5 separate regions of the Homo sapiens genome follow, and regions 1, 2, 4 and 5 are each linked to region 3. The links come from fine-mapping of genetic effects on gene expression. A gene starts in region 3. Each other region holds a variant in brackets. All regions are shown on one strand. Distances are between the middles of the regions.

What was found. PIP is the estimated chance that this variant, and not a neighbour inherited with it, causes the effect. A credible set is the group of variants that fine-mapping cannot tell apart.
Region 1: its variant is the best candidate, but not a certain one, in a credible set for the expression of TXK in prefrontal cortex (CommonMind, PIP 0.69).
Region 2: its variant is the best candidate, but not a certain one, in a credible set for the expression of TXK in whole blood (TOPMed, PIP 0.68).
Region 4: its variant is the best candidate, but not a certain one, in a credible set for the expression of TXK in blood mononuclear cells (TOPMed, PIP 0.81).
Region 5: its variant is the best candidate, but not a certain one, in a credible set for the expression of TXK in T cells (TOPMed, PIP 0.55).

The regions. Positions count from the first base shown.
Region 1 is chr4:48,322,567-48,328,953 of GRCh38, reverse strand. No RefSeq gene overlaps it. Among named protein-coding and RNA genes, the nearest start is that of SLAIN2, 16 kb to the left of the region's middle. The variant TA/A (reference allele first, on the strand shown) is at 2,325.
Region 2 is chr4:48,878,188-48,884,574 of GRCh38, reverse strand. No RefSeq gene overlaps it. Among named protein-coding and RNA genes, the nearest start is that of OCIAD1-AS1, 21 kb to the right of the region's middle. The variant T/C (reference allele first, on the strand shown) is at 2,356.
Region 3 is chr4:48,131,280-48,137,666 of GRCh38, reverse strand. It overlaps TXK (TXK tyrosine kinase), which reads left to right and starts at 3,417. Exons shown (of 15, transcript NM_003328.3): 1 at 3,417-3,512. The coding sequence starts at 3,497. TEC (tec protein tyrosine kinase) reads left to right here. Exons shown (of 18, transcript NM_003215.3): 18 at 168-1,884. The coding sequence ends at 251. RefSeq lists a silencer at 3,681-3,975.
Region 4 is chr4:48,103,245-48,109,631 of GRCh38, reverse strand. TXK (TXK tyrosine kinase) reads left to right here. Exons shown (of 15, transcript NM_003328.3): 6 at 4,677-4,731. It also overlaps the pseudogene RNU6-838P and the pseudogene LOC124900886. Among named protein-coding and RNA genes, the nearest start is that of TXK, 28 kb to the left of the region's middle. The variant T/C (reference allele first, on the strand shown) is at 2,827.
Region 5 is chr4:48,177,863-48,184,249 of GRCh38, reverse strand. All of the region lies in intron 2 of TEC (tec protein tyrosine kinase), which reads left to right. Among named protein-coding and RNA genes, the nearest start is that of TXK, 47 kb to the right of the region's middle. The variant C/T (reference allele first, on the strand shown) is at 2,800.

The sequences.
Region 1 (6,387 bases), 190 kb before region 3:
AGGCAGATCACGAGGTCAGGAGATCGAGATCATCCTGGCCAACATGGTGAAACGCCGTCTCTACTAAAAATACAAAAATTAGCCGGGCATGGTGGCACGTGCCTGTAGTCCCAGCTACTCAGGAGGCTGAGGCAGGAGAATTGCTTGAACCCGGGAGGCAGAGGCTGCATTGAGCCCAGATGGCGCCACTGCACTCCAGCCTAGGTGACAGAGCGAGACTCCCTCTCAAAAAAAAAAAAAAAAAAACTCTCTTTTATTTAGGCTTAGGTGGTGTTCTGTTACTTATAATCAAAACTGCCCTGATATGGCCAACAAAATCTGTTTCTTTCTGAAAATTGGACAATAGGGGGAAATATCTGTGTGGTTTTCTAAGTGCTTTCATTCATCAAACATTTGTTAAGCAGCTGCAGCATTCCAGGTATTATGCTGGATGCTGAAGCTACAATAGTGAACAGCACATGGTTCATAGAATTTCAATTTTTGTAAGGGAAGTGGTATAAACAATATGTAAACCAATACATAATAGCTGCTAAGAATGAGAAGTGCTATGAAGAAAACAAATGAAGAATGAAGGCGGAGAGTAAAGAGGAAAGCTTCCTTAGATAGAATGAGTGGGGAAGGTGACTTTGAGGGAGTGGCATTTAAACTGAAGTCTGCAAGATGAGAAGGTGAAGGATTGGTACCAATTGAAGAAACAGTGCATGCCAAACTCTTGAGATGTTAGCTTAGGGAATTGTGAAGATTGAGAAAAGAACAAGCATAAGTAAATGTAGTAAGTAAGGGGAAGAATGCCATTTGGTGCTGTAGGGAATTGGGAATTAGGTGGGGACCAGATTATTCAGGGCCTTACAGACCAAGGTGAAGAGTTTGGATTTATTGTGTGTACAATGAGAAGCTGTTGAAGAGTTTTAAGCACTTGAGTGACAAGACCCAATTTGCAATGAGCTTTGCTTTTGTGTGGAGGATAGATTGGAGGAAAGCAAAAGTGGAAGCAGGCCAGTTAAAAGGTTGTTGCTTCGTCCAGGGGAGAGATGATGGTGGCCAAGAATAGGTGGTGGCAAAGGTGAAACGGGAGAATTCCCTGATTCCCCTTGCAGAATGTGCGACAGGGGTGTGGCTCGCCCATTTGGTCTCCACCACTGCTCAAACCCCTGACAAGAGGCGGAGCATGCTTATGGGCAGGTGCAGGAATGGGGAAAGTGCTTTGGGCTCCAGCTCCATGGTAGTGTCTAGGGGTGGGTGCCTGCGGCCTCAGTGTTATAACGCTTTCTTAGCCTTGCCATCTGCAGACAGCTTAAGTGTTAACGAGCTCAGTGTACCCTCTGCCTTTTCTCAAGGAGGAGACCAGTGTGACAGCTTTCTGTATCCTAAGCTCTTGCCCAACATCCCAGAAGAATTGGGTCACATATGGGCTTGAAGGATGAATGCAGGGTTTTATTGAGTGGTGGAGGTGGCTCTCAGTGGCATGGATGGGTAACTGGAAGGGAAATGGAGTGGGAAGATGACCTTCCCTTAGAGTTTTGGCCATCCAGCGGCCGAACTCCTCTCTGACCACCCCCAGATGAGCTCCTGTTGGCATTCAGATGTTCCTTCTCTTGTCTCTTTCTCTGCCATGGCATTCGTCTGCTTGTCTCCTCATCTCCCCATCTCCTCATCTGCTTCTGGAGTCTGGGGTTTGGGGTTTACATGGGTACAGGATAGGGGGGTGTGGCAGGCCAAAAGCTAACTTTCTAGGCATGAAAGCAAAAATGCCTGTTCCCTCTTAGGACTGCAGGTCTCCAGGTTTGAGGGTGGGGCCTTTGCCAGGGAAATGAATGCCCTCCTCTGCCCAGTATTTCCCTGTCTCCTGTCCATATCAGTGGTGATAGAGAAAGTAGATTCCATGCTGAGGAGACTGGGACAGTGGATATGGGTGAGGGGTGGAGAGGAGAGAGGGTGGCCATCAGGGAGAGTGGTGGGGTGGAAGAGATTTAGGGCTGAAGAAATGAAGAATACCATTTGGAGCTTTGTTTACTTTGATCTTTCTGTGCAAGAGTAGACACCCAGTTGGCCATTGGAGATGGAAGCCTAGAGTTAGGTACAAGATTTAAGTTGGAGATATAATTTGGGGGTCATCGACATATATATGATACGTGGTTCCAGAATCTCAATCTCCAGGCTTCTTTCAGTTCACTCTCTCAGGCTTGGTGCTCACCCTCCCCAAATCAGGGCATACAGGAACTTCTGAATCTCCTGTAAACCATGCACAGGTCATGAAGAACTAGGAGCACCATCTCAGGCTTTCCCTCAGCCAACAGTACCACCACTACTTTTTTTTTTTTTTT[TA/A]ACTGTGGCAATTCCACATTGGTAAATGTCTTACTCCAAGGTGGCCTTCTCACAGATACCCTGACAGAAAGGAGTTTCTGCTGACATAGGGAGTAGGATTCTGGGTTCTTTCTCAGGATCATATCCTTCCGTGTTCATGCCTATAAATGGAAATAATGTTCCCTTCCCACCCAAGCATAAATGTTTATTCTATTTTTAAGAGGGTTTTTCTTTTTCTTTCTTTCTTTTTTTTTTTTTTTTTGAGACAGGGTCTTGCGCTGTTGCCCTGGCTGGAGTTTAGTGGTATGAACTTGGCTTACTGCAACCTTAACCTCCTGGGGTCAGGCGATCTCCCACCTCAGCCTCCCAAGTAGGTGGGACCACAGGTGCCTGCCACTACACCTGGCTAATTTTTGAATTTTTTTGTAGAGATGGGGTTTCACCATGCTGCTCAGGCTGGTCTCAAACTCCTGGCCTCAAGCGATCCGCCCACCTTGGCCTCCCAAAATGCTGGGATTATAGGCATGAGCCACTGTGCCTGGCCAAGACTGCTTTTTAAAATAGCTTTATTGACATATATTATATACCATAATATTCACCCTTTTAAGTGTATAATTCAATTAGTTTGAGTAAATATGCAAAGTTCTGTAATCAACACAGTCACTAAGTTGTAGAATATTTCTGTCTTCCCACCAAATTCTTCATGCTTATTTGCAGTTACTCCTTGTTCCTTCCCAAGCCCTAGGCAACCACTAATCTACTCTTTGCTTCCTCAGATTTGCCTTCTCTAGAAATTTCATGCAAATAGAATCATACAATATGTGGTCTTTTGTGTCTGGCTCCTTTTACTGAGCATGATTTTGAATTTCATTGAAGTTGTAGCATATATCACCATCTCATTCCTCTTTTATTGCTGAATTGTATTCCACTGTGTGGATATACCACATTGTGTTTATCCCTTCTCCTGTCGGTGGCCATTTGGGTTGATTCCATGTTTTGGCTATTATGAAGAATGCTGCAAAAATAACATTTTCATTCACCAATGTCACTCAGTTGTTGGAAGAATTACTTAATTTTTAAAATTGTGGGATAAGATGGTATAATTTGGAGTTTTTCCTCTAGTTTCCAATTTCTCAGAAATTTGGTTACACTGTATTTATAGTTTTAAGAATAAATTTCATTCGATTTAAATTTTATCATAAAATAGACCAGGTGTGCAGTGGCTCACGCCTGTAATCCCAGCACGATGGGAGGCCGAGGCAGGTAGATCACTTGAAGTCAGGAGTTACCAGCCTGGCCAACATGGTGAAACCCTATCTCTACTAAAAATACAAAAAATTAGCGGGGTGTAGTGGTGCATGCCTGTAATCTCAGCTACTCGGGAGGCTGAGGCAGGAGAATCACTTGAACCCAGGAACCCAGGAGGTGGAGGTTGCAGTGAGTGGAGATACTGCCACTGCACTCCAGCCTGGGTGACAGAGTGAGGCTCTGTCTCAAAAAAAAAATCTACATCTATATCTATATATAAAAAATATATATAAATATACAGATATTTAAAAAATATATATATATACACTTTTTTTTTTTGCAATGTTTTGCTCTTGTCGCCCAGGCTAGAGTGCAGTGGCACGATCTCAGCTTACTGAAACCTCAGCCTCCCTGGAATTACAGGTGTGTGCCACCACGCCCAACTAATTTTTGTATTTTTAGTAGAGACGGGGGTTTCACTATGTTGGCCAGGCTGGTCTCAAACTCCTGACCTTGTGATCTTCCTACCTTGGCTTCCCAAAGTGCTGGGATTACAGGCGTGAGCCACTGCACCCGGCCCATAAATTTTATCATAAAATAGTTCAGTCGTACACAAAGGCATAAGAAGAATAACAACAAACCCATCATGTAGCCACCACAGATCAAGAAATATTCCTTTTCCAGGAGATAACCACTATCCTGAATTTGTGTTTATCATTCTCAATCATTTATTTGTATGTACTTTTACCAACATGTGCACATTCTTATACAATATACATAAAAATGATGGTGCTATGTACTCCTGTTAGTACTTTAGTACTAACTTATTGTAATTTTCACAGTAACTATAAGATGTGGAAAATATTATCCCCACTTTACAGATAAAAAATTGGAGGCCAGTCGAGGTTAGAGACTTGCCTGGGTCTTACTGATAGTAAATAGTGGGGGCACGTTTGAACCAGGGAAGTCTGACACCAGCACATCTGCATGACTATGCCACACTGTTTCAAATGCTGTTATACTATTATTGGTATTCTTATCCAATCTTCTTTTTCCCTCAGCATTATGTTTTCAAGATTCACCCATGTTAATACATGTAGGCCTAGCTCATTCTTTTTCACTACTGTATGGTATACTCTTCAATAAATAGACCACAATTAATTTGTTCATTCTTCTATTAATAGAAGACACAACCAACAATGTTGTAAGTACATACTTGTATATGTCTCCTTGTGCATATATGCAAGAGTTTCTCTAGGATATATACTTACAGGTACAATTTCTGGGTTACATGTGCATCTTCAAATTAACTAGATATCCCCAAGCATTCTCTAAAATGGTTACCATTTTAGTTTCAGGAAATAAGTTTGTAAAAAATTCTGCTGTCCATAGTTATCATGTATAAAATAATCAGATACTACAATAAAAGAGAAGAAAGTGTAATAAAAGTGACAAAAAATAGAAGCTAAAATAGAATAGCAAAGTAATCAAAATCTGCCATTTATAAATTCTCTCTTTTAAGTGCATGCAACAGAGGTGGAACAGCATTTCTCTACTCTCAACTTTCCCTTCCTTCTAAGCAATATTCAACTCTCAGACCTTCCCTGAAGAGTGTGGATGTGATAGATTACTACAAATATTAAAATCTCTGAATTCAACCTGAATTATCTTAAAGTGGATTTCCCTCACAAGTCCACGTTTTATTTGATCCCCTCCTCTTCAAGCATTGCCATAGGTTCCCTACCAGCTTGAAACTTGCTATTTAATTTTCATTCACAATTATGGAGTATTAATGAGCTGAAATGCTCTGTTTCATATAGAGATGTAAATACAATATACTGATATAGCTATAGACCTCAAGTAAGGTTTCTCAGCAAAGACCCATGATAGGCCAGGCGCAGGGGCTCATGCCTGTAATCCCAGCACTTTGGGAAGCTGAGGCATGCGGATCACTTGAGGTCAGGAGTTCGAGACCAGCCTGGCCAACATGGTGAAACCCCGTCTCTATTAAAAGTACAAAAAATTAGCCAGGCGTAGTGGTTCATGCCTGTAATCTCAGCTACTCGGGAGGCTGAGGTGGAAGAATTGCTTGAACCTGGGAGGTGGAGGTTGCAGTGAGCCAAGATTGCACCACTGTACTCCAGCCTGGGTGACAGAGTGAGACTCCATCTCAAAAAAAAAAAAAAAAAAGGAAAAAGAAAAGAATCATTGGGAAAACTGGAGGAGCAGGTTCAGGAAATGAGCAGGAACTGAAGGGACTAGGCAGTCTGGAACTCAGCCAGAGATACCACCAGAACAGTCTGCTTATCTTGGACACTTGCTCTCACCCCTTGACTCTGTTCTCACTACTGTCACTCCACTGGACGCTGGATATTGCCTCCAGCAACAGAATTAATGCTATACTATCCTGTTCTTGCTTCTTTGTATCAAAACTCTTAAGTCCTGAGCAGGGAACTTCCAAATGGCTGACCTTAGGTCACATGGTATTTCCCTAGCTGTGAGGAGTCTAGGAGAGCAAGTATCTGCTCTTTCTGGCTTCCTTAGTGGGAGGCAGAATCTGTTTTTTGCCAAACATCATGCAATGGGGCCTTCTCTAATGTATTAGTCAGTTCTGGAACTGCTATAAAGAAATACCTGACACTGGGTAATTTATAAAGAAAAGAGCTTTAATTGGCCATGGTTCCGCAGGCTATACAAGAAACATAGTGGCTTCTGCTTCTGGGGAGGCCTCAAGGAGCTTAGAAGCATGGCAGAAGGCAAAGTGGGAGCATGAGTCTTACATGGCAGGAGCAGGACCGAGAGAGAGGGAAAGAGAGAGAGAGAGACAGGAGGTGT
Region 2 (6,387 bases), 750 kb before region 3:
AGTGGAGTTTTGGAAGTGACCATTGTCTTTTTTTGTTTTTGTTTTTGTTTTTGTTTTGGTTTTTGTTTTGGTTTTTGTTTTGGTTTTTGTTTTTGTTTTGAGACAGGGTCTTGCTCTGTCACCCAGACTGGAGTGCAATGGCATGATCATAGCTCACTGCAGCTTCGACCTCCCAGGTTCAAGCCACCCTCCCACCTCACCCTCCCAAGTAGCTGGGATTACAGGTGTGTGCCATCATGCCCACTATTTTTGTAGTTTTTGTAGAGGGGGGGTTTTGCCATGTTTCCCAGACTGGTGTTGAACTCCTGAGCTCAAGCAATCCACCTACCTCTGCCTCCCAAAGTGCTAGAATTATAGGTGTGAGCCACCATGCCTGGCCTCTTTGTCTTTAGGTTATCTGCTTAGCAAATGGGCACATGCTTATGGGCAGCCCTCAAGAATGGGGTTCTTTCATATACTACTAGTGGCCTGAAACAAGAAACACAACTTCCCAAATTGTCTCTCATTTTCCCCAAGGAACAACTTATTTATGGGAGGAATCACTGGAATAATTAATACATGGAATGATAAATTTAGAATTCTAGGGAGTTCAGAGGCAGCCAATGCAACTCCAGGGGTTGGACTCCTATTCTCCTGTCAGATTTGTTGCATGAAAACAACAATAACAAAATCTGGCCAAGTGCAGTGGCTCACACCTGTAATCCTAACACTTTGGGAGGCCAAGGCGGGCAGATCACTGGAGGAGTTTGAGACCAGCCTGGCCAACATGGTAAAATGCTGTCTCTACTAAAAATACAAAAATTAATCGGGCATGGTGGTGCATGCCTGTAATCCCAGCTACTGGGGAGACTGAGGCACGAGAATCTCTTGAATTGGAGAGGTGGAGGTTGCAGTGAGCCAAGATAGTGCCACTGCACTCCACTCTGGGCAACAGAGTGAGACTCTGTCTAAAAAAAAAAAAAAAAATTAAGAAAGAAAGGAAAAAAAAAGAAACCCTTCCATGTGGGAACCTTTTGTTTTATGTATGACAGGTTGTCTGAGCCCTACAGAAAAACTACTCTTGCATCTTTGCAACTTCTCAGAAGAATGCTTTATATATGTATCATCATTTATATCAATATATAGGCAAGGTGCAGTGGCTCACACCTGTAATCCCAGCACTTTGGGAGGCTAAGGTAGGTAGATCACTTGAGGTCAGGAGTTTGAGACCAGCCTGGCCAATATGATGAAACCCCACCTCTACTAAAAATGCAAAAATAGCCCGGTGTGGTGGCACATGCCTGTAGTCGCAGGTACTCAGGAGGCTAAGGCAGGAGAATTGCTTGAACCCGGGAGATGGAAGTTGCAGCGAGCAGAGATTGTGCCACTGCACTCCAGCCTGGGTGACAGAGCGAGACTCTATCTCAAAAAAAAAATATATATATATATAGATAGATAGATAGATGATAGATAGATAGATAGATAGATACATAGATAGATACATAGATAGATAGATATATAAGAGGTTTGTGTATGTACACATTTGGGTTTTACTTAATACATCTTGAACATGTATCATGGAAGTTAAAAGAGAAACTTCATTAAAAGTTAATCGTTTACATGAAATATTTTATTTTAAACATCAAATTATACAGAAGTTTTAATTTTTACATGAACATTAAGAGTAAGCCTCTTTTTATATTACGTATGCTATTTTTTCAGTCCATAAAGTTTTATTTCTGTAAATCAGAATGCAAAGCCAATATCCTATCATCTTAAATGCAAGTTTAACTCTTGTCTCTGATAACTAGCAGTTGGTGACTCTTTGTTATCTCAGCTATTGGCAAAAATTCAGAATTGGGCACATTTATTTCCTACTCCCCAGAAAATGATTTCCTAGGGATCAGAACATTTCACATTGCTTAGCACAGCAAGTCAATGTAAAAAATCTATCCCAAGGTACTGGGGAAAGATACATTTATTTTATTTATTTTTATTTTTATTTTTATTTTTTTTTTATTTTTTTGAGACGGAGTCTTGCTCTGTCACCCAGGCTGGAGTGCAGTGGTGCGATCTCGGCCAACTGCCTCCCGGGTTCATGCCATTCTCCTACCTCAGCCTCTTAAGTAACTGGGACTATAGTCACCCGCCCCCAAGCCTGGCTAAGTTTTTGTATTTTTAGTAGAGATGGGGTTTCACCGTATTAGCCAGGATAGTCTCCATCTCCTGACCTCGTGATCCACCTGCCTCAGCCTCCCAAAGTGCTGGGCCACTGGGGTGAGCCACTGCACCTGGCCAATACATTTATTATTGTTGAAAGGAGCATTGTTTTTACAGATGACATCTTCATAGTTCTTCTCAATCAAATTGGGTTTA[T/C]TGCTTGGGCTTTCTACATTTCCTACGTAGAGAAGTTATTCATTGAAGCAGTTTATCATGACGATCTATCTTAGAGTGAAAGAAAATCAATAAGGAAAAAACTGGAAGTTCATCCAAGAGGCTTTGATTATTCTGCTGCTATTTTTTTGGGTTTCTTGTTCGTTTGTTTTGTTTTGTTTTGCTTGTCTGTCGCCCAGGTGGACTTCAGTGGCACAATCTTGACTCACTGCAACCTCTGCCTCCCAGGTTCAAGTGATTCTCCTGTCTCAGACTCCTCAGTAGCTGAGATTACAGGCATGCACCACCACGGCTGGCTAAATTTTTGGCATTTTTAGTGGAGACAAGGTTTCACCATGTTGGCCAGGCTGGTCTCAAACTCCTGACCTCAAGGGTTCCACCTGCCTCAGCCTCCCAAAGTGCTAGGATTACAGGCATGAGGCACCGCACCCAGCTGCCTATCTATTGTACATATTAGAAAGCTAGTACCTGGGGGAGAATGTCTGTTTCTTGTGTTAAAGGAACAGCACCTGCCTTTTGACATTTCACCATTACCAACACTCATCACAAAGCTGGTCACAAGCTTATGAAAGCAGTACCTTCATGATAAAAAAAAAAAAAGAAAAAAACTTGGAAAAGAACAGCAAGATAAAATCGTAGATAGACTCACGTGAAAGAAAGAACTGATGAGACTACACGGTAGTAAAAGTTGGATGTCTAACCAATTTTATTGGCAAACTTTCCCTAGGATGATATGGACTGATATTCTACAGTGACGAGAATGCAAACCTTCCCATTATTTTGAATTTGATTAATGGAATTTAAAATGTAACATTAGTTTGTCCACGGATGCACCTGTAAGAAGAGACAAACTTGATATCTGAAATCAGCAAACCTTGTCTAACACATTTGTAGTTCCTCTAGACAACATAATAAAATGTTTTTAACAGCGGGTAATGACACTAATGAAAATAAGGAAGATCCTTACTCGACCAGAAAAGATCAAAATGATTTCCTTAATTCCATGCACCTCCATGGCACTCCAGTGATGCCTAGAAGTGTGTTTCTTTCTTGGCTTACATACAAGTGGATGACTAGAAAGGATGCTTTCAAGATATTTTTAGTTTCAAAGGCATTAACCAAACATTCCACCATTAGCTATGGTGATCATTTGTTCTAAATTTTGCCTCAGTTTGTGTGATCCTGGAGTTCAAAAGTTATTACTATAAACTGTATTCTAATGAAATGTATGTTTTATAATTTAAAAAATAGTGGAATAATCCTTTTGTGTTTGTTTCTCTTATTAAAATAGATCAGTTTCCAGAAAGACTCATATGTTATAGATATTATACTGTATATTATTACATATATAAATATGTAGCATATAATATACTGTATATAATGCTTATTATATATTTTAAAATTCTCATTTAAACAAAGATATTCTCTTCCTTTGCTGTCAGAATGGTTTGTCTAGTTTAACATTATGAAAGTAATAAAAATGTATCTTGCGTGATTTGATTAAGTAATAGCAATAAAAATGTATCTTGAATGATTTGATTAAGTAATGAAATGTAATGCAAATGTTGTGTAGGCAATTTTCTTGATATTCAAACAATGCAAACTGTTAATTGACAGAAAACCTCTCCATTTTGGAACTCTGCTCCCAAATTTCAACTATAAAATTCAGTTTTGTAGACACTTGGAGTTGGCAGAGATTTCAGTGATTAACTCAGAGGCTGCAAAGAACAGGACCAGACGGACAATGTAATTGAGTGAAGCTGAGCTAGTGGCATATTAAACAAAGGTGTATTCTTCACTTCCGTACACAAAAATAGATAAGCCCACTGTTGCCAAATCTTCCACTTGTTCAATATTCAGTGCAAGCAAATGCAGGTTTTTATGTGAAATCTCCCGGTTTTAAAATATTCACATTCTTTCATATATTTAAATATTGAGCACTCATTCTGTACTAGGAACTGTCCTAGGTCCTAGGAATATAGCAGTGAATACAACCAACAAAAATCTCATCCTCCTGGAGCTTATATTCTCATCACCAGTTCTTGGCTTGGGATCCAATCCAACCCCAACCCCGCCCCCCCACAACCGGCAGCACTCACTGTGGAAGTCTCCTCCGTACTGTCCCAGGAGGTGAGATTTCAGGACCCCCCACATACATACTTCCGAGGGAAGGACACCTACTGCTCAACAATGCAGCCCAGTACACTGCCCAGCTGTTAAATTCTTCAGAAAGTCTTATGGGGAGCCCAAGTTTGCTTCCCTCCTGTTCTAAACTGGAAATTCCTCCAAGATAGACAGTGTACTCATTTTTTCTTATCTCTGAATCCTCAAGCAGCATACTTGCAGAGATGGGCATTTCATAAATGCTTTTCAGCTTAAACCTGTAATTTGCCGGTGGCTACAAAATACAATTCTCATTCCTCTTTTACAAAATAGCATTGAAATACTGGAAAGCATGCTTCCTGGAATTTGGCTAAAGGGCCCTAGTTTTATTTACCATTGGAGTGGGTTTCCAACCCTGTCACAACCTGGTCTTGGGATAGCTTTCGGCCTGTGGTGTCCTCATACACAAAAACTCCAAAAATGGATTGACCAGTTCAGAAAAGGGCAGGATTATTATAATTTTTGCTTTAGGGACCGGAACTGTTAGCAAGAGAGGCTCTGCATCAGGCCCTGTGCTTCAAATCCAGGCTTCACCACTTACTATCTACTTGACTTTGGGTTATTATTTATCTGCTCCAGGACTCAGTTTCCTCATCTGTAAAATGGAAATAATATTAGACTTACCTGATAGGTTTCTCAAGAGAATTAAATGGGCTGATACTTACAAATTACTTAGAATAGTGCCTGGCTCAGAGTAACCACTCAATGGATGTTAGTTATTACTACTACTACTATTACTGAAATTTAAGAATACATAATTAGATTGCATAGTAGATTGTTACTGGCCCTAATTATTAATACTTACCTCTCCTATACCCATGCCTTTTGTCATGCAATTTTGCATTACCTTCCTACTGTGAACAGGGGCATATTTACCTATCTTCTTGACCTTCAGCTTGTGGATATGACTTTAGGCAAAATATAAGCCCAAAATGAAGGTGTGCTGAAGTTCCAAATTTAGGCTTAAAGAGGCCTTTTCTGTTTCCATTTCTGTCTCTATCATGGCCATAAGAAAAACATGCCCAATACTAGATACAAAAGCAATAGCCTGAATGCTGATCCATCAGCTGTTGCCTAAGGTCTAATCCCTGTAATAAATCCCTTACTCTATATCATTGATAGCAGTTCTGCTTTTCTATAAAATCTTAATTAAAAAATGTGGTAGGAGGGCAGAGCAAGACGGCGAATAGAAGGCTCCACTGATCATCCTCTCATCACAGGAACACCAAATGTAATAACTATCTACACAAAAAAAGCATCTTCATAAGAACCAAAAATCAGGTGAGCACTCATAATACCTAGTTTTAACTTCATATCGCTGAAAGAGGCACTGAAGAAAGATGAAAGATAGTCTTGAATTGCCATTGCCACCCCTCTCCTATACCCCTGAACCATCTGCATGGCACAGAGAGAAAATCTGTGTGCTTGGGAGAGGGAGAGCACAACTGTGAGACTTTGCATTAAACTCAGAGCTGCTCTGTCACAGCGGGAATTGACTGAACTCAGCTGATGCCTGCCCATGGAGGTAGCACTTAGACCATCCCTAGTCAGAAGGGAATCATCCAAACAAGCAGAGTTCCAGCAAGCCTTCCCACCATGGGCTGAAGTGCTCTGAACCCCTAAGTAAACTTGAAAGACAGGGTAGGCCACAAGGACTGCAACTCCAAGGCAAGTCTTAGTGCTAGGCTGTGTTTGAAGCCAGCAGATGTCAGGGGAGTGCAACTACTGAGATACCAACAGAGCAGCTAAAAGAGTGCTTACACCACCTCTCCCCAACCCCAGGCAGCACAGCTAGTGGCTCCAAAAGAGACACTTTTCTTCTGCTTGAGGAGAGGAGACGGAGGAGTAAAG
Region 3 (6,387 bases):
CAGGGTAAATTAGGGTAGAGACAAGACCCCTTTGGAGATGCCTGTATGTCCTAGTCCCAAAGCAGTGAAGTCTCTCTGTAATATGCTGTGTTTAGGAGTTGGAGCAGTGAGAGGTTTTGTGGAATGGATTCTGGAACCCACAGCTTCTCTTTGACTTTTAATTGTAGAAACCAGAGGGAAGGCCTTCTTTCGAAGATCTGCTGCGCACAATAGATGAACTAGTTGAATGTGAAGAAACTTTTGGAAGATAAGTGATGTGTGACCAGTGGCTCCCAGATTCCCAAGCACAAGGAAGGATGGGCATTTTGTGGCTTTTAATTTATTGAGCACTTGGACATGTAGATCATTTTACTTATACAGTGGAAACACATAAATAATTTGCTTCTAGACCAGCCTCTGTCTAGACTTGCTTCTAGACAGAATCTCCCAGAGTGTGGAAATGTTGCCTTAGAAATGGTGATTAAAATCACTCATTTCTATTCATTCCTCAGGCACTTGAGTGACAGTTGTTTACCAGGCACTGTGTGTAGCCCCAGGGTTTGGCCATTCAGGGGTGCACACATGGGACCATGTTAGCTGATGCCAGTTGAAGGCCAGGGTATTTGGGAAGGGGAAGGGTATTAGAGTCATGACCAAGCAACCCTTCTTTTTCCCTTTGACTTCTACAGAAATCTGGGCCTGAGACATTGTCTACAATTGGGTTCTAGATACATCAGGAACCCATCTTGGATAAATAAATACCTATCTTTTGTTTTGAAAACATCTCAGTTTTCAAGACTGCTCTTAGTATTACATGAACAATATTTGTATGCTGTATATATTGTAAATATATATAATATATAAAGTTATATATTTATGAGAAACACGAATTGTCTTTTAATTGAAACTTTTAATCCTGTAGTATAGGAGTTCACCTTCTTAGGACTAGAGACTGTGCCTTATAGCTGTTAATTCATTTCCCCCTGAACATCAAATATGCCTGAAGAGAAGAAAGTCTAGATTCTTCTATGAGTAACGCCCCCTCCTCACTCAGGTAAATGTGTCTGGGGATGCCTGTCCAGCTTAACCACGTGCATTTGGCCTATGTAATCCTGCCCATGGTGGCCGCAGCTAATCAGAATCAGATGGAAAATTAAACCGGGTAATCTACTTCTAAGCCTTAAGAATATTCCCTGGGACACAGACACTATAATTGGAAGTGCTGAGCTCTGGGGCAGAAGGATCAGGTGACCTTCGCAACAAAGTTTGCCCCCACCTCACATAGGACCCGGAAGCAGCCTGAGCTGTGGCGGAGGATCCAGGAAGCTACGGAGAGAAGCAGCCAGCATGGTGTTCCGTGCCTCCCGGACGTTTTTCAGGAGGCCTGGTTGGACTTGGGTTCCTGGATGGTGGGATTGTTGTACAGCCTCTCAGGAGACCCTGCTGTCAAGACTGTGTGTGTGGATTTCTCACCCTTAGAAGCTCTACTAAGACATCAACGGAATTAGGGCCTTCCTTTTTGCCTTGTGAGCGCCAAGGAAAAGAAACTATCTCGGTCACGTGAGCGCCAGCGAAAAGAAACTGTATCAGTCATCCAGAGACCGTTTATTGCCCAACACGTTATTCTTGCTGTTGGTGGGGTAACTAGCCGAGGAAGACACAGCGCCTTCCCTTCAGGAGTTGCGTCTCCTCTGCAGGCCACGATGGTCTGCTCTGGAGCATTGGGTGAACACACAGGCTGGCTGCTCTGGGCAGCGCCTTCACTCTGACCCTGGAGAACCATTTCATTTCATCCTGGTCAGTCTAGAGTCTGTGCACCAGGCAGTCCATCCACTGAAGGCTGTGTTTATTCTTTTCCTGTGCCCCTCATAATGGAAGAAAGTAAACTGCTTATCCCGAGCCTTATCACAATCTGCCACATTCCTTCTTGTCTACCTGTTTAACTGTACCCCCATCACAAAAACAGGCACAACTTTTTTTTTACATTCCAGGGTACATGTGCAGGATGTGCAGTTTTGTTACATAGGTGAACGTGTGCCATGGTGGTTTGCTGCACCTATCAAAAACTCATCACCTAGGTATGCATTAGCTATTTTTCCTGATATTAGCCTGATATATATATTTCCTGATATTAGCCTGGCATGCATTAGCTATTTTTCCTGATGCTCTCCCCTCATCTGCCCTCCCCAACAGGCCCCAGTATGTGTTGTTCCCCTCCCTGTGTCCATGTGTTTCATGGTTCAGTTCCCACTTATAAGTGAGAACATGTGGTGTTTGGTTTTCTGTTCCTGCATTACTTTGCTAAGGATAACGGCTTCCAGTTCCATCCATGTCCCTGCAAAGGACATGATTTCATTCTGTATAGCTGCATAATATTCCACGGTGTATATGTACCACATTTTCTTTATCCAGCCTATCATTGATGGGCATTTTGGTTGCTAACCATGCACAACTTTTAACTGACTTGTAGCTCATTGAAGGAGTCGGTCCTGGCACACTCTACCTTACTATCACTGTCAGCCTTTTCTCCTTCCTTCCTGACCTTCCCTCCTCCCATCCCATACTTCCCTTTTCACCTTGAGGAGCTACGGGAAGTACTAGGTGGTATGAAAGAGAGTGAGGAGAAGATAGAGTCCCTGTCCTAATGGTCAGTGTATGCTTTTTATGGGAAAACAAGATAGATAGCACCTGGCAACATTTGTCAACATTTCCTTCAAAAATCTTTAAATATTTTTCACTAAGACTTAGAAAAAAAGTTTTATACGAAAGCATAACAAAGGCAAAAGGTGAAGTAAAAATAACAGTCATCACCCAGAATGCTAAGGAGACCTTAATCTAAACCAGGAAATTGGAAGGGCGATTAGAATATGCTGTGTCTTCATTAAAGTTGCTCTGTTAATTAGTTGACACATGGTTATGCTTTCCAGTGGGATGAAGTGAAACTCCCAAGTGTGTTTTGTATTGTTGGTGTTTTTATATTTCTCAGCCATCCCCCAATCACATTTTAGGGTTATTACTAGATTGACTTCCCCCAAATAAAGTGTCTGCTGAGTGGGAGGATGGAACATTCTAAACTCAATATTCCAGAGCCTAGAATCTAATTGTTTCTGCCACTCACGGTGTGGCCTTGGGCAAGTCCCTTATTCTGTCTGTGCCTTCATTTCCTTCCCAGTCCAGAGAGGGCAGTTTGATTTGATAATTTTAAAGGTGCCTTTTACCAAAATTTTGTGATTTCTTGAAAATGATGTTTGCGAGTCACCCACACCTTTGGGGATGAGAGACTAATAGCAGATACCCTCAGAGATTGGGATGGAGATTACTGAGCTTTCTTATATATGCCATTGGTTGTCATTTATACTCTTCTGAGGTTTTCAGAACAGGAAAATAGGTGGGGTTAACTCTGCCCGTGAGAAACATCTTGAGCGAACTATGATTTCAGTTGAAAGATGTGTTTTTGTGAGTAGAGCACCGCAGAAGAACTGAAGACTGTTGTGTGCTCCCCGCAGAAGGGGCTACCATGATCCTTTCCTCCTGTGAGTAAGATGGGCTTTGTCATTTATTTTTGGGGCTTGTTCTGGGGCCTGTTATTCTTGAACAGCAGAGGAAGTTTTTTTTTTCCAAGGCATAGAGCTTGGGGACATTAAAAGATAATTTCCTCAGATGTTGTGACAGAGTTTTGTTTCTTATTTAAAGAACCACAGTGATGATGTAATTCTAATAAAGGTTCAGCATTGAGAACATAAATGAAAGAAAAACAGAAAGAGTGTCCAGAAATCTGCATATGTGTGTGTAGAAATGCAATCAGTATGAAGTACTTGTTTTTAGAATGAGACTGTAATGAGCTCTGGGCTGAAGGCCAGGAGACCAAGTTCTAGTTCTGGATTTGCTCCAGCAGTGGTGGATCACAGTGGGCAACTTTATATATATATAAATACACACACATACACACACACACAAATAAATATCTATATTTAAGGCAAAAGGAAGAGAAGTCAAAACACAACTGTGTTTATACTCTGAAATTATCTGCTTTATCAAGTAAACATATAGACTTAACCTTTATTTTCACAGGGGTATTTATTCACAATTCTATGTAGACTTCCGTTATCGAGGACCTTTCCCAAGCAATTGAAATTTAGGCAAAACTGATTCTTATCTGCAGTCAGAGCCTGAGTAAAGGCCAAAATAAGAGTCAAAGTCACGAGTCTCTACCTGGTTAAAAGTGTGAACATGGTCAAGTGTGAACACTGGCTCAAATGTCTCTTTCCCTCATATATAATACTACATATGAAGATGTTATTTTAATATTTTTATAGAATATAAGACCATCATTAAAAATAAGTGCTTGTTTTAGGAGAACAGAGAAAGATTCCCTAGACACTGTTATCTGTGAAGATCCTTGGTTTGAAAGAGCTGTGGGGGATGCTTATAAATCCAAAGAAATTAGAATAAAAAAAAAAACCAAGCAGAATAGTCTTCTAAATAAGAAGGCAGCCGTCATATCAGAATTGCAATGTGTTTGTTTCTTTATAAAGGTATTTATTGAGCACCTACTATGGGCCATGGTCTATACCAGTTCCTTTATATTCATTATCTGAAATCTTCACTACAAACTGGCAAGGTGAAAATTGTTATTCTTATCTAGCCAATAAGAAAATTGTGCCTTTGAAAGTTTAAATCTTGCCAGAAACTCATATGGTTGTCAGACGCAGGATTTAAGTATGAGACTTTTTTTTTTTTTTTAGACAGAGTCTTGCTCTGTCACCCAGGCTGGAGTGCAGTGGCACGATCTCAGCTCACTGCAACCTCCACCTCCTGGGTTCAAGTGGTTCTCCTGCCTCAGCCTCCCGAGTAGCTGGGACTACAGGCGCATGCCACCATGCCTGGCTAGTTTTTCTATTTGTAGTAGAGACAGGGTTTCACCATGTTGGCCAGGTTGGTCTCAAACTCCTGACCTCAAGTGATTTGCCTCAGCCTCCCAAAGTGCTGGGATTACAGGCATGAGCCACCACACGCGGCCAAGCATGAGACTTGCCAGACTCGGGATTTAAGTGCTCTTCCTTTTGCCTTAAATATATATACACACACACATACACACATATATAAATGAGTTTATATGTATAAATAAGCTCTCAAAGGGAGTGTGTGTATGTGTATATTTGTATACATATAAAGCTGCCAACTGTGATCCACAAATGCTGGACGAAATCAGAACTAGAACTTTAGCCCAGGCCACTCCCTTTTTGCCCACCTTGCAACAAAATATAAAGAAACAATAAACCTGAGAGGTGCTTTAAGAACTTTATTTTGGGAGTTGCTTTGGAAGACTATTCAGTCCCATGTGCAGTTTTGGAAATACTTATTAATTTACCTCTAAGACTCAGAGGGCCTTATTTTGCAGATAAGGAAGGAAAATACTGTCTGATTTTAATACTAGGTGACGATGGAACCAAGCTTCAACAAAGCTCAGTCATATCAGATTAAAGCAATCAAAGACCAGCTAAAAAAGTCAAGTTTTTACATTTCTGACTTTTAAGTAGCATTAAGGAAAAATTGATTGTAATTTTTAAATATCATCTGTTTAAGCGAAATCCCCTCATAGGAGCCAACAATTGTTTGTAGATTTTGTAAAAAAAAAAAAAAAAAATCAGGTTATTCCAGTTGTGCTGACCTGAAAATAACTCATAGTCTTCCATTCACGCAGATAAGAACAAGCCTCCTGTAAACAGAAATATAGGCCAAGCAGAGCAAAGCAGAAAAAGCGACAAAGCAGCAACCTGTGTCCCCTGCCACCTCCACTGGCAGGACAAGCTCAGCAGTGACTTAAGGATCTTTAAATATTAAAAGCTGTGTGAGCATCTGCTCTTTATTTCCCTCAAGGTCAGAACTAAAGAAAATGCTGTAAATTACAGCAGGAAGGATTCGGTTATATATAAAATAAATCACTGTGAGTGTTGAGACAAGGATTTGATTGTCCAAGGGATTAAATAAGGGACTACCTATTGGCGGGATATTTTGAGGATTATTCTCTCTGGCATGGATTTGATGAAATCTCGTTCTCCTTTCCAGCTTCTGTTAATTTGATTTGATGGTAAGAATCACCTGTTGTCTACTGTATATTGCAGCTGAATGTGGCTACATTTTCTGCTGGGTAAAACAATGAGTGTTTACTATTGACAAGGAGACAGCTAAGTGATGCCTCAAGATGTATTACTGTTAATCAAAAAACAAACAAACAAACAAAAAAAGTCCAGCGAAGAAGATTGCTTAAGCTGAGGAGTTTGAGGTTGCAGTAAGCTGTGACTGCACCACTCCACTCCAGTCTGGGTGACAAAGTGAGACCCAGTCTTTTAAAAAAAAAAAAAAAAAAGTTTATATGTTTGTTAGGGTCATTTGCCAAAAACATTT
Region 4 (6,387 bases), 28 kb after region 3:
ACTCATCTACATTACTCTATGAGATTTCTCCAGTAGCTATTTCTGTTCTCTCTCCAGTCACTCTCCTCAGCTCCATCATAGGATCTCTTCTCTCTTTTCCCACCTTCACTTGGCCTCCTGTCTCTATTGGAGCCATTTAGCCCTTCCCGAGATTCTAATCTCCAGTAAATCAAAGTTCTCAGGTGACTGAACCCACCTTCCTTAGAAAACAGTTCCAAAGTGCTCACTTCGGCAGAGCATATACTAAAATTGGAATGATACAGAGAAGATTAGCATGGCAATTTTTAAAAATTGAAAACAAAAGAGGCCAGGCATGGTGGTTCATGCCTGTAACCGTAGCACTTTGGGAGACTGAGGTGGGAGAATTGCTTGAGCTCAGGAGTTCAAGACCATCCTGGGCAACATGGTGAGACCCTATCTCTATAAAAAAAGGACAGAAAAAAAAAAAAAGCAGTTCCACAGCTATCTACTCAAGAGCATGTCCTCATGAGGTCTCACTGCTATCCTGAGCTGAAGCTGACCAACAAAAACAGGCCTCTTGCAAAGCCAGGTCAGAGATTTTGTATGTATTTACAGATATTATATGAAAATCTCTTGCTCAGAAAAATTAGAAAAATGAGACTTTTTTTCATATAATTTGGATTTTACAAGCGATTAAAGGAGACATTTGTGAAAGTAGCTAACACAGTGCCTGGTGGTTAGTGAATGGACACTCACTACCTAGGAATGTTACTTTCCACCCTTTCATTATTCATTAATTTGCTCATTGATTACCCTGTTTAGACAAGGCCTAGGCTCTGGCTATAACAGCCTGTTTATACTGTGGATGTTGGATCATCTGAATTAAACTACTCTGGGGCTACAACTGCTACCTCATTTCCTTGGGCCTTGATTTATATATGTGTTTTTTTAAAAAATCATCCTTTTTAAAATGACTCCAATTATGAGAAAACTCATTTTTCATTTTATTGCTGTTTTTAAAAACAGCTTTATTAATATGTAGATAAAATAGCTATCATTATTGATCACTGAAATTTATTGATCACTATGTGCCAAGCACTGTTCTAATGACTGTACGAAAGTTACTGCCCTAGGTTGAAGTACTAGAGCATGTGTATAGAAATGGGAACAACCTGGGTCCAAATCCTGGCATCAGCACTGACTAGTGCTTTGGTTCTGGGCAGAGTTACCTAATGTCTCTAAACTTCTGAATGATCTGAAAAGCAGAGAAAATAGTATCTATTCTATCTGTTACATAATACATGTTCAATACATTCTAGTGATTATTATTATTTCATGAACTATGAAACTAACAGGAAAAACATTTACAGTTTGGGCTACCATGCCTGGTATTTACAGGCATTCAACACTCCTTCGTTACTTCAGTCCTCAAATCACCTTATTTGTTCCATCTGTATTTATTGTACACTTACGATGTACCAGATATAACAACCTGAAATATACAGTTATGGAACTTACAGTTCTTGGGGAAAAACAGACATTAAACAACCCTAAGTCCACAAATAAATGTACAATTTTATTTATTTATTTATTTATTTTTGAGACAGAGTCTCGCTCTGTCACCCAGGCTGGAGTGCAGTGTCGTGATCTCGGCTCACTGCAAGCTCTGCCTCCTGGGTTCACGCCATTCTCCTGCCTCAGCCTCCTGAGTAGCTGGGACTACAGGCGCCCGCCACCACGCCCGGTTTTTTTTTTTTTTTTTTTTTTTTTTAAGTAGAGACAGAGTTTCACGGTGTTAGCCAGGATGGTCTCAATCTCCTAACCCCGTGATCCGCCCGCCTCTACCTCCCAAAGTGCTGGGATTACAGGCGTGAGCCACCGCGCCCGGCCCATAAATGTACAATTTTAAATCGTAGTGTTATGATACACTGGAGCCTGGGGCGGGGGTTGGGGCGAGGGCGGCAAGGGGAGGGAGAGCATCAGGAAGAAGAGCTAATGGATGCTGGGCTTAATCCTAGGCGATGAGTTGATCTGTGCAGCAAACCACTGTGGCACACATCTACCTATGTAACAAACCTGAATATCCTGTACATGTACCCCGGAACTTAAAATAAAAGTTGAAGAAAAAAAATAAAATAAACTGTAGTGTTTTGAAGGAACAGTATTGGACGCTGTGGAAGAAAACAGGGCAGGGGATGTAATTCAGATGGGGGATGTTGGGTTGGCTCTGAGGAAGTGACTTGAGGTCTAAAGGTGGTAGCAGGTAGTGTGTGTTTTGGGGGGAGGGTGGGGTATGGTGGAAGGAATGCTGTGTCAATGTGGAGTTCTGATATTTCAGAGGAACCTTTGTGCATAGAAAGATTTATGGCTACTTTAAATGAATATCCGAATTATCAATATTACAATGGAAAAACCTAGTTTTCAGAAAGTCCTCAAATTCAACTTATAAAATTTGGTATACTATATATAAATCTAAAGAAGTAAGAACAATCAGCTTAATTCAAACTCAACATACTAGATATCCTTAAACAATCAGTCCTATTTATAAGCTCAGTTAATTAAATTTTTGGAAACTTTTAATTTGCATTAATAAACTGAATAAATTCAGTTTTCTTCCAAAGTACTTCACATGCCTGACAGGGCAAATTTACAATTGTAATAAGCCCTATGCAAGTCTTTAAATGATCCTGGAAATCTAATAAACTAAACTTATAAATGTGGGAAATCAAGTTCTTTTAACTGTACAAATATCATTTTAAAAACAAGTCAAATTATCTTCAACTTCGGATAACAAGTTTAAAATTAATTATGCCTTTTAAATCAGAGGCAAATATCTAATATGCCAGATTCTCTTAAAATAATAGA[T/C]ATTTTAAATACCAAACATATTGATTATTCCTGAACTTTACAGAAGCATGAGTTTCATTTATCTCATTATCTGTACACGGAATCCTTAATCTTCTCACAGTTAGAAAGTCATTTACTAAGAGAAGCAGATTTACATTCTCAGATCTAATGGGGTTTCTAGATCAAAAATTCAAGAACACAATACTGTTTACTTATAGAAATCTAAGATTGGGACATGAGACCAGAGGTGTTCACATAACATACAGGATGTTTCTACTCACCCATAGCTGGACGTGCTGGATTTAAAAAAAAATGTTCATAGGATTCCTGTCCCTAACTCCTTCATACACATCATTTGGTCTTAGTTGTAATCAATGTTGTCTAGGTCTAAGAGTTGTCTAAGAGTTACAGTTTTACTTACATATTAAAAAAAAAAAACCCTTCTAACTTTTATAATCTGATTTAAATAGATGAAATTCTGAAATACTGTGCTCTTGCCTCCTCTAAGTTCCATTCGTTCAATCTCTTTCCTGCCTGATAGAATTCTGAATTATTTTAAAAGATCTTGAATTTGTCACATACTTCTATCTGGCAATATTAGATTAAGTTTAAAACCTTCTTAAAAATCTTGTTTTTGAGTGCTTGCTTCGGCAGCACATATACTAAAAATTGGAACAATACAGAGAAGATTAGCATGTTCCCTGTGCAAGGATGACACACAAATTCATGAAGCATTAAAATTTTTTTAAAGTCTTGTTTTGAAATGAAAGCCTTTCAGTTTTCCTTTCTCTCTCTTTTGTTCTACCATTTTTTCTTTCTCCTTCCTGTACAACATTTGCTTACTGACTAGGTATTACCATATCAAACTGTATGTTTAGCTTACAGTATTAGTTAATTATGTTTACTGTGTGTACTTCTGATATTCTAAAGTCATTTAACTACATGTTTCATGCAGAGAAAAACAGCATGATTGGGGGCAGAAAAGGGGTTGGTGAATCTGAGGAAGGAAATAATTCCAATGAGACTGAAGCTTAGTGAGTGAGGGGAGACTCAGGAGAGAGATGAGGCGGGAGAGGGTGTTAGAGGCAAGTTCATGTATTGGTTGTTCCATGTATTCTGTTTTTTGATTTTTTAAAAATTTTATATTAGATCTAGAGGGTACACATGCAAGTTTTTTTTTATCAACAGTATATTGTGTAATGGTGGGTATTGGGTTTCTGGTGTACCCATCACCCAAATAGTGAACATTTTATCCAATAAGTCATTTTCCAACTCTCACCCCCACTTCCATCCTCCCTGCTTTGGGAGTTCCCAGTGTCCATTATTTCCATCTCTATGGCTATGTGTTCCCCCTGTTATCTCCCACTTGTAAGTGAGAACATCTACTAACTACTGACTATACTATGACGTAATATACTTAGGAGTGTCAGAAAAGTAAGAATGGGCTTTAATTTTTGGAAGGGGTAACAAAGCACCTATAAAAACATGTAAATAGGAAGTTTCTGAGAGGAAAGACAGAAATGAGTATTTTTTCAGTTTGTCTGCCAAAACTCAGTGTTTGTTCAAGATGATTTACCACATACCTTTCATGGAAATTTATAAGAAGTTAAATCATTCATAATGATATACTAAGTGTATATTGGAAGCTGAATTGAGATATGATAGAATAAACTAGATATTGATTTGAAAATAAAATTATTTTAAACTTAATTAACCCACAATAGTATATTATTGTTTATCTGAATTTAAAAAAACACTCAACTTTCTAAGCTCAGTTCTGAAGTAAGTTCTTAAAAATGAAGAAAATGAAGCACTTTTTTCTTAAAAAAATTGAATATAAAATTTAAAAATCATTTTTATTGCTTTTACAGGTGGTACCATAGAAACATTACCAGAAATCAGGCAGAACATCTATTGAGACAAGAGGTAATTCAATGTATTTGTGGACATTTTCAAAATCTCTGAGAAGTACTTATAAAGACTTTAACCAACTAAAAAAGTATATTATTTCTTGTCTTTTCTAGTTCTAAAATATCATTACATCCCAACTATATATTTTATGTGAAGTTGTAAATCAGATATATTTGTATTAGATCATGTTTTCCATCAACTTTCATTATAATTTCAGAAATACGTTTCTCCTGAAAGGCTTTCAGCTCCAACATAGGCAGACTCCTGCATTCACTCCAAGGTGCATTCTGCCAATGGACTCTCTCTCTCTCTCTCTCTCTATATATATATATAATATATATATTATATATATATATTATATATTATATATATAAAATATATATAATATATAATATTATATATTATATATATAATATATAATATTATATATTATATATATAATATATAATATTATATATTATATATATTATATATAATATTATATATTATATATATTATATATAATATTATATATTATATATATTATATATAATATTATATATTATATATATTATATATTATATTATATATTATATATATTATATATTATATTATATATTATATATATTATATATTATATTATATATTATATATATTATATATTATATTATATATTATATATATAAAATATATATTATATATAATATAATATATAATATATATATATATATTTTGAGACATGCTCTCGCTCTGTCACCCAGGCTGAAGTGCAGTGGCTCGATCACAGCTGACTGAAGTCTTGACCTCCTGGGCTTAAAGCTATCCTCCCACCTCAGCCCTCTGAGTAGCTGGGACTACAGGTATGCCACCATGCCTGGCTAGTTTCTTTGTATTTTTTATAGAGACAGGGTTTTGCCATGCTGCCCAACTGGTCTTGAACTACTGAGCTCAAGTGATCAGCCCGGCTTGGCCTCCCAAAGTGCTGAGATTACAGGTGTGAGCCACCACGCCCAGTCTGGAGTCCTGTATTTGAGTTGCTCATTATAACCTTTGCATCAAAGGCAGTCAAGTATAAACTTGATCCTCAGGAACTTAGGTTAGACTCATTAAAAACACAAACAAAGAAAAATACATGCTGCTGCAGTTTCTTTGTTCTTTGGAAACAAAGGAAAGAGTAGAATAGCCAAAATATGAAACTGAGATCAAAACTGCTCATTTAGGTCAAACCAACACAAAGCTGCCTATAGTTTAAATTTCCAACTGTCAGTAAACATTAACTGTGGGTAAAAGTAGAGTCAGAACTAGAAACTAGGTAAGAGTATGTGTGTCATTTTGCTCTGCTGTTGGATATTGAGGAAATCTAGAAATGCGAATGAGAAATAATCAGTTCTGTAACTCAAAACTCAATGCCAGTAATGGCTCAGGGTACAATGAAGACCTACTTCATAGCAGGGGCTATAGGCAGAGAATGAGGGACACAGGCCCATCCTCAGGTGACCACGGATGGAGGTTGGACAGGCCTCACTTGCTTGGAGGAAACTGAGTGTGGCAGAAAATATGCTATTTTCCTGGTATGGTCACAGCAAATGGCCTTTTGTAAGGTGACATTAATAGGTCCAACACGGAGAAAAAAAATTTTATGACAGGTGGGCAGAACGAGAGAAGGAAAGTCCCAGAGGAGGTCCACAGTTA
Region 5 (6,387 bases), 47 kb before region 3:
TCCTGGATTATTGTGTGACTTTGGGCAAGTTAATTATACTCTCTATGTATTGATTTCTCCATCTGCAAAATGGGGGTGACAGTAATTCTCATGTTATAATGCTGTGAGGATTCACTGAGATTATCCACATTAAGAGGCTAATGTATTGCTGGTTTATAGTAAGTGTTCTATAATTGTTAGCTATGGACATGATAATATTCTTTTTTTTAATAATAAAAGTCCATAACTATTCAAGCTTTACAGACCTGGAGTCAGGTAAAAGCATTACTGTTTTTGAGGGATTTTAGTTCAATTCTGGCTCAGCCTCTACAATCCTTAGCCAGTCTCATAGCCTCTCAGTGCTCAGTTTCCTGCAACTTCCTAGGGTTACTGTGAAAACTGACAGTATATGCTACTATTTGGGGAGTGAGTTTGTATTAATCAGGGTTCTCTAGAGAAACAGAACCAATAGGATACATATAGATGTATATGAGGAGATTTATTATGGAAATGGGCTCACGCAATAGATTATGGAGGCTGAGAAGTCCCACAATCTGCCATCTGCAATGTGGAGACACAGAAAAGCTAATTGTGTAATTCAGACCAAGTCCAAAGGCCTGAGAACCAGGAGTAGGGGAGGAGGCTGCTGGTGGAAGCCTTGGAGTCTGGAGAGCCAGGAGCACCAAAGTCTGAGAGCAGGAGAAGATGGACATCCCAGCTTTAAGAAAAGAGTTCGCTTTCCCTTTGCCTTTGTTTGTTCTATTTGCCCCCTCATCGGATTGGATGATGCCCATCTGCGATGGCAGAGGTGGATCTTCTTTACTCACTCAGCTGATTGAAATGCTAATCTCTTCCAGGAACACCTTCACAGACACCTGGAAATAACGTTTTACCAGCCGTCTGAGTATCCCTTAGCCTACTCAAGTTGACACATGAAATTAACCATCACAGAGTTCCATGTGTCAGACACTGTTAAGCACCTATGAACATTATCTTTAATCCTGCTGATAGCTTGGCAAAGAGAGCAGCATTGTCCTATTTCTACGGAGAAAGGAACTGAAGCACAGAGAGAAAACTGGGATTGCCCTAGGTCGTATGGCTTATAAGTGGCAAAGCAGAGGCTAGAAGTCAGGATCTGCTTGTCTCCAAAGCTCATGCTCCTTCTCTGAGGTCCTCTTGCAATGCAGACATGATTCACCCAGGAGATTTCCTCTGCCACAAGACCCTGGGAACAGCCACATCAGGAATAAAATTTGTGATGTGGGAAAGGGACGAATCATTTGGAATATTGGAGGGACACCCTGGCAAGCCTTTCCCTGTGTGTGGTGGGGACTCTGGATGCCTTGGGAAAAGGACAAGAGGGTGTCCTGAGATAAATGACTTCTCAGATCACCTGAGACCAGCCTGGTTATTTGTATACATTTTTTTCTCACTTAATTTCTTTAGATTAGGATGGATATTTGTATTATTAAAATACAGAGTATTCTGGAAATTAAAGGAAAACAGTGTACCTTGTAAGTCTTGCTGGGGGACAGAATCTCATCCATCTAACTCCGAGTTCTGCCATTCAGTTGATGTGTAGTTTAAAGCAAGTTATATTTCATCTTAATGCCTCATTTTCCCATATACGCTGGTTTACAATATATAAAATGGTCATTGCTTACTTCCATTTTCAAGCTTTGCAAAGTGTGCAAGAGAGGACACACACACACACACACACACACACACACACACAGAGTATTGCCCATGGTCCTTTGCATACTGGGTCAGCACACTGTTGAATTAGTATCCACTAAGTGTCAGGTGGTCTTCTTAGCTCGGCAGATTCATAGAGGATTCAAAGGTGAGTCAGGGAAAGTCTCAGCTTTATCATGATTTTCAGTCTAGTAAGCAGGGCAAAGGCTATAGAATAGAAAGGAAATATAACACAAAAAAAAGTAATGACCTTGGATATTTCCCCTTGGGCCACAATTTTTTTTTTTTTTTGAGATGGAGTCTCGCTCTGTCACCTAGGCTGGAGGGCAGTGGTGCGATCTTGGCTCACTGCAACCTCCACCTCCTGAGTTCAAGAGATTCTCATGCCTCAGCCTCCAGAGTAGCTGGGATTACAGGTATTTGCCACCAAGCCTGGGTAATTTTTTTGTATCTTTAGTAGAGATGGGGTTTTCCCATGTTGGGCAGGCTGGTCTCAAACTTCTGACCTCAAGTGATCTGCCTGCCTTGGCCTCCTAAAGTGCTGGGATTACAGGCATGAGCAACTCCACCCAGATGGGCCACAATATTAACAATAGCATATAGCATATGCCATGAATCATGAAGTATTTTCTTACTGAAGAAATTCTAAAGAATAGTCTAAATGGAGGAGAAACTGTGAGTTCCTTCTACGGTAACTGCTCAGAAATCATTTCCTAAAGCTTTTATTCCTAAAGGGCCCCACTGTGGAAAAGCTTTAAAAAGCTGGCATGTCAGGAGTTAAAGTGGGCTCGGGGAGAAAGTGCATGGGATAGCATGCCTCACTCAGTAACTCTCTGTTCCCTATGGTGAATCCTTTATCCCTTCCAATTCTTTTCTTTTTCTTTTTTCTTTTTTTTTTTTTTTGAGACAGAGTCTCACTCTGTTGCCCAGGCTGGAATGCAGTGGCACTATCTCGGCTCACTGCAACCTCTGCCTCCCAGGTTCAAGCTATTCTCCTGCCTCAGCCTCCCAGGTAGCTGGGACTACAGGTGCGCACCACCATGTCTGGCTAATTTTTGTATTTTTAGTAGAGATGGGGTTTCACCATGTTGGCCAGGCTGGTCTTGAACTCCTGACCTCATGATA[C/T]ACCCTCCTTGGCCTCTCAAAGTGCTGGGATTACAGGAGTGAACCACGGTGCCCAGCCCTTCCAATCCTTTTTTTCCGCAGCCCTGCCTAACCTCCCAGGGTTACCTTCAGATGTGGCTAGAATAAGCTGCCACTATATATACTGTATATGTGTTGTGAAAAGCAGAATTGTCTTTATAAAGATGGCGCTAAGCATTTCTGCAGCAGAATTGTCTTTATCTATAAAGACAGTGCTAAGCATTTCTGAGTTCTGGACCCATATTTTAACTTTCACCTGGTTGTTCAATTGTCACTCAAACATTTCCCAGCCCTGCCTCCTCGCACCTGATTGTCCTTCTGTGTTCCTTCTCATGATTCATGGTGTCCGTGTTTCCTGGTCACTCAAACTCAAAATCCGTTAGCCCCCCTCAGTCCTTCTCTACTCTTAATCCCCATATCTAAGTGGTCACAAAGTTTTGTGAACTCTGCCTTCTAAATTATCTGGTGTCTTTGCTTTTCTTACTTTACTGCCACTGACTTGGTTTAGAACTTCATCTCTCACCTGAACTATTACGGCAGTTGCCCAGCCAGCCTCCCTGTCAACACTCACTCTTCACCTGCCGTTAATCATTATATTTTTAAAAACACACCGCAGTACTGCACTCCTGATTCTCCATGTAAAACTGCTCAGAATAAATCCAAACTTGTAAGGCTGGTGCAGAAGCATCTTCCTAATGTGGCCTCAGACAGCCTCTTTGGTGTCATTCCCTACAAGCCTCCTAAAGCACCCTGAGCTTCAACCACAGTGAATTTCTTTCTGTTCCCTAAATACTCAGCACTTTGTTGTTTTGCAGCCTGAAACTCTCTCCATTATCTCTGTAGGAAAACTCATACTTATCCTTTAAAAATAAAATCAAAATATCACTTCCTTCCTGAATCTTCCCCATCTTCTTGTGGCCCCATCACTGCCCCACTCTGTAGGATACCACAAGAGAACATTGCTTGATCATTACTAGACTGTGAATCATCCCTCTTCCCCTTCCACCCATCATATTATGAAATCCTCTTGAAGAGACCCTCAACCCTCCTTTCATAACTTTGAAACTCCAGCACTCAGCATGGTGCTTGTTGCCCAGTTGGGTTGGTGTCCCATAGTATTTGCTGGCAGAATAAATAAAAGAATGAGTGATCAACTTACATGTGAACCTGTATCTGCTAGTTTCATAACAAGATATTTGGAGAAAGTCAGTCCAAATATTGTTAGGTTGGTGCAAAAGTAATTGCAGCTTTTGCCATTGCTTTTAATGGCAAAAATTACAATTACTTTTGCACCAGCCTAACCGTACAGGATATTAGGAGATTATATATCACAGAGTATGAATTTAGGGGACATAAGTAAAATCAAGTCATCCCAAATTTTCTTATATCTATTTATCCACATCTGACAGCTGCTTTTAGAAGCCAGGCCAGGTGGTACATGGAGATATGGGTGTTTTGAAAGCAGACCATGGCCTGCTGCTCCTAGAGCTAGACAGTTATTTACTAAATACATGCAGATGGGCCAGACATTCTTCTAAGCACTTTGCAAATATTAACTCATTTAATTCTCATAACAAACCTAGGAAATAGATACTATTATTATTCCCATTTTACAGATGAGGAAACTGAGGTCAGGTGGAATGTGTTTTTTCTTTGCATCTACTGTTCATTTCACTGAGATTTCTCTTCCTGCCATTCCTCTTCTGAAATGTAAGCCATTGTTCTCTGTGCTCTCTTAGCATCTTTTTTATATGTAGTGCTCACGCCTGTAATCCCAGCACTTTGGGAGGCCGAGGTGGGTGGATTACCTGAGGTCAGGAGTTTGAGACCAGCCCGGCCAACCTGATGAAACCCTGTCTCTACTAAAAATACAAAATTTAGCTGGGCGTGGTGGCACACGCCTGGAATCCCAGCTACTTGGGGGGCTAAGGCAGGATAATTGCTTGAAACCAGGAGGCAGAGGTTGCAGTGAGCCATGATTGCACCACTGCACTCCACTCCAGCCTGGGTGACACAGCAAGACTCTGTCTTGAAAAAAAAAAAAAAAAAAAAAAAATATATATATATATATATATATATATATATATATATATACTACCCACGTCATTACATGATAGTTGCTATGTCAGTCTGTTCCACAAGTAAACTTGGGCACATTACTTAATTTTAGTTTCTTTGTCAGTAAAATGGGTGTAGTAATCCTTACCTTGCAGAGCAGCTGTGAGGATTAAAAGCACCTGGCCCAATTCTGCGGCTACAAGCTCAGGAAATGAGCTTGTCCTATTGTCTTTTTGTCATTCTTCACACAGTTGTTGACACATGACAGGTGTTGTCCTGTGAGAAACTGAAGGGAAGGGAGAAAAGGAAAACCAGGACAACCCAAAGTCAGGGCCACTAAGGGCGCAGAAGAGTGTCAGCACTTGCAAATCTCAGAAGGTGGCTTACAATTCAGAGAAGACCGTTTGGTTTGATCATCAGTAATGTTTTCGATAACAGCCTTAGCAGGCTATGAGGTGGGAGGCAGATGCAAGTGGTTAAGGAGGGAGTGGGTGGTAAAGAAATGAAAACTGAGGGTGCACTGTCTTCTCTTTTAGGAACAGAGGAGAAGGGTTAGAGTAGCAGCAGGTGAAAAGCATGCTTCCCGGTTTGGATAGGAGAGCCCTGAATGCGTCTGTAGGCAGGGTGGGAGAAGCCCTTAGCAGAGAATGACCAGAGAGGATGTCCTTCCTTCTCCCTGCTCTGGTGGAAAGGCTGCTTAGAACCCCTTTTGTCCATGGTGGGACTTGGCTCCATGAGTCCTCTTACTGCTTTGCATCTCGGGCATCTCTCACAGTCTAGCTGGCTTTGGGTAATGTACCCAAAATGTACCCTTTCAGCTCAGGGCCTGGGTAATGTACATAACTTGTCTCAGCTGCAGTTTCCTCATCTGTAAAATGAGGAGAATAATGTGTACCTCACAGGGATATTGTGAGCACAGAATGAGATAACATGTGTTCAGTGCCAACGATAGTGTCTCAACCATTGTGTCTTTTTAACTTTTCTCTTAGAGACAGGGTAAAAGAAAAGCAAAAAGGGTAAAATCTTAGCATTTTCTTGAACTGCAGAAGGAAGAATTTGGGGATGTGCCCCTGGATAACTGCTGTCTCCTCTGTAAAGCAGAGAGGGAGTGAGTCCACCGAGGCAAAGGGAATGGGAAGTTTGTAGTTTTGAGGGCACTGGTAGTTTGAGGCCGCTGGGTTCTCTTCACTACACAAGGGCTGATGAGCAGCAGCGAAAGCCTGGCTGGGCATAGAGATGGCAGTTAGGATTGTGTGTGTGACCTTCCATAGCCAGGCATGAAGGGAATAGGGAAAGGTGTGGACGGAACTGGGGACTGACAAAACTGTTGTATTAGTCCATTCTCACACTGCTATAAAGACATACCAAAGACTGGGCAATTTATAAAGAAAAGAGGTTTAATTGACTCAGTTCTGAATGACTCGGGAGGCCTCAGGAAACTTACAATCATGGCAAAAAGGAAAGAGGCACATCTTACATGGCGGCAGGCAAGAGAGAGAGAGCGAGCAGAAA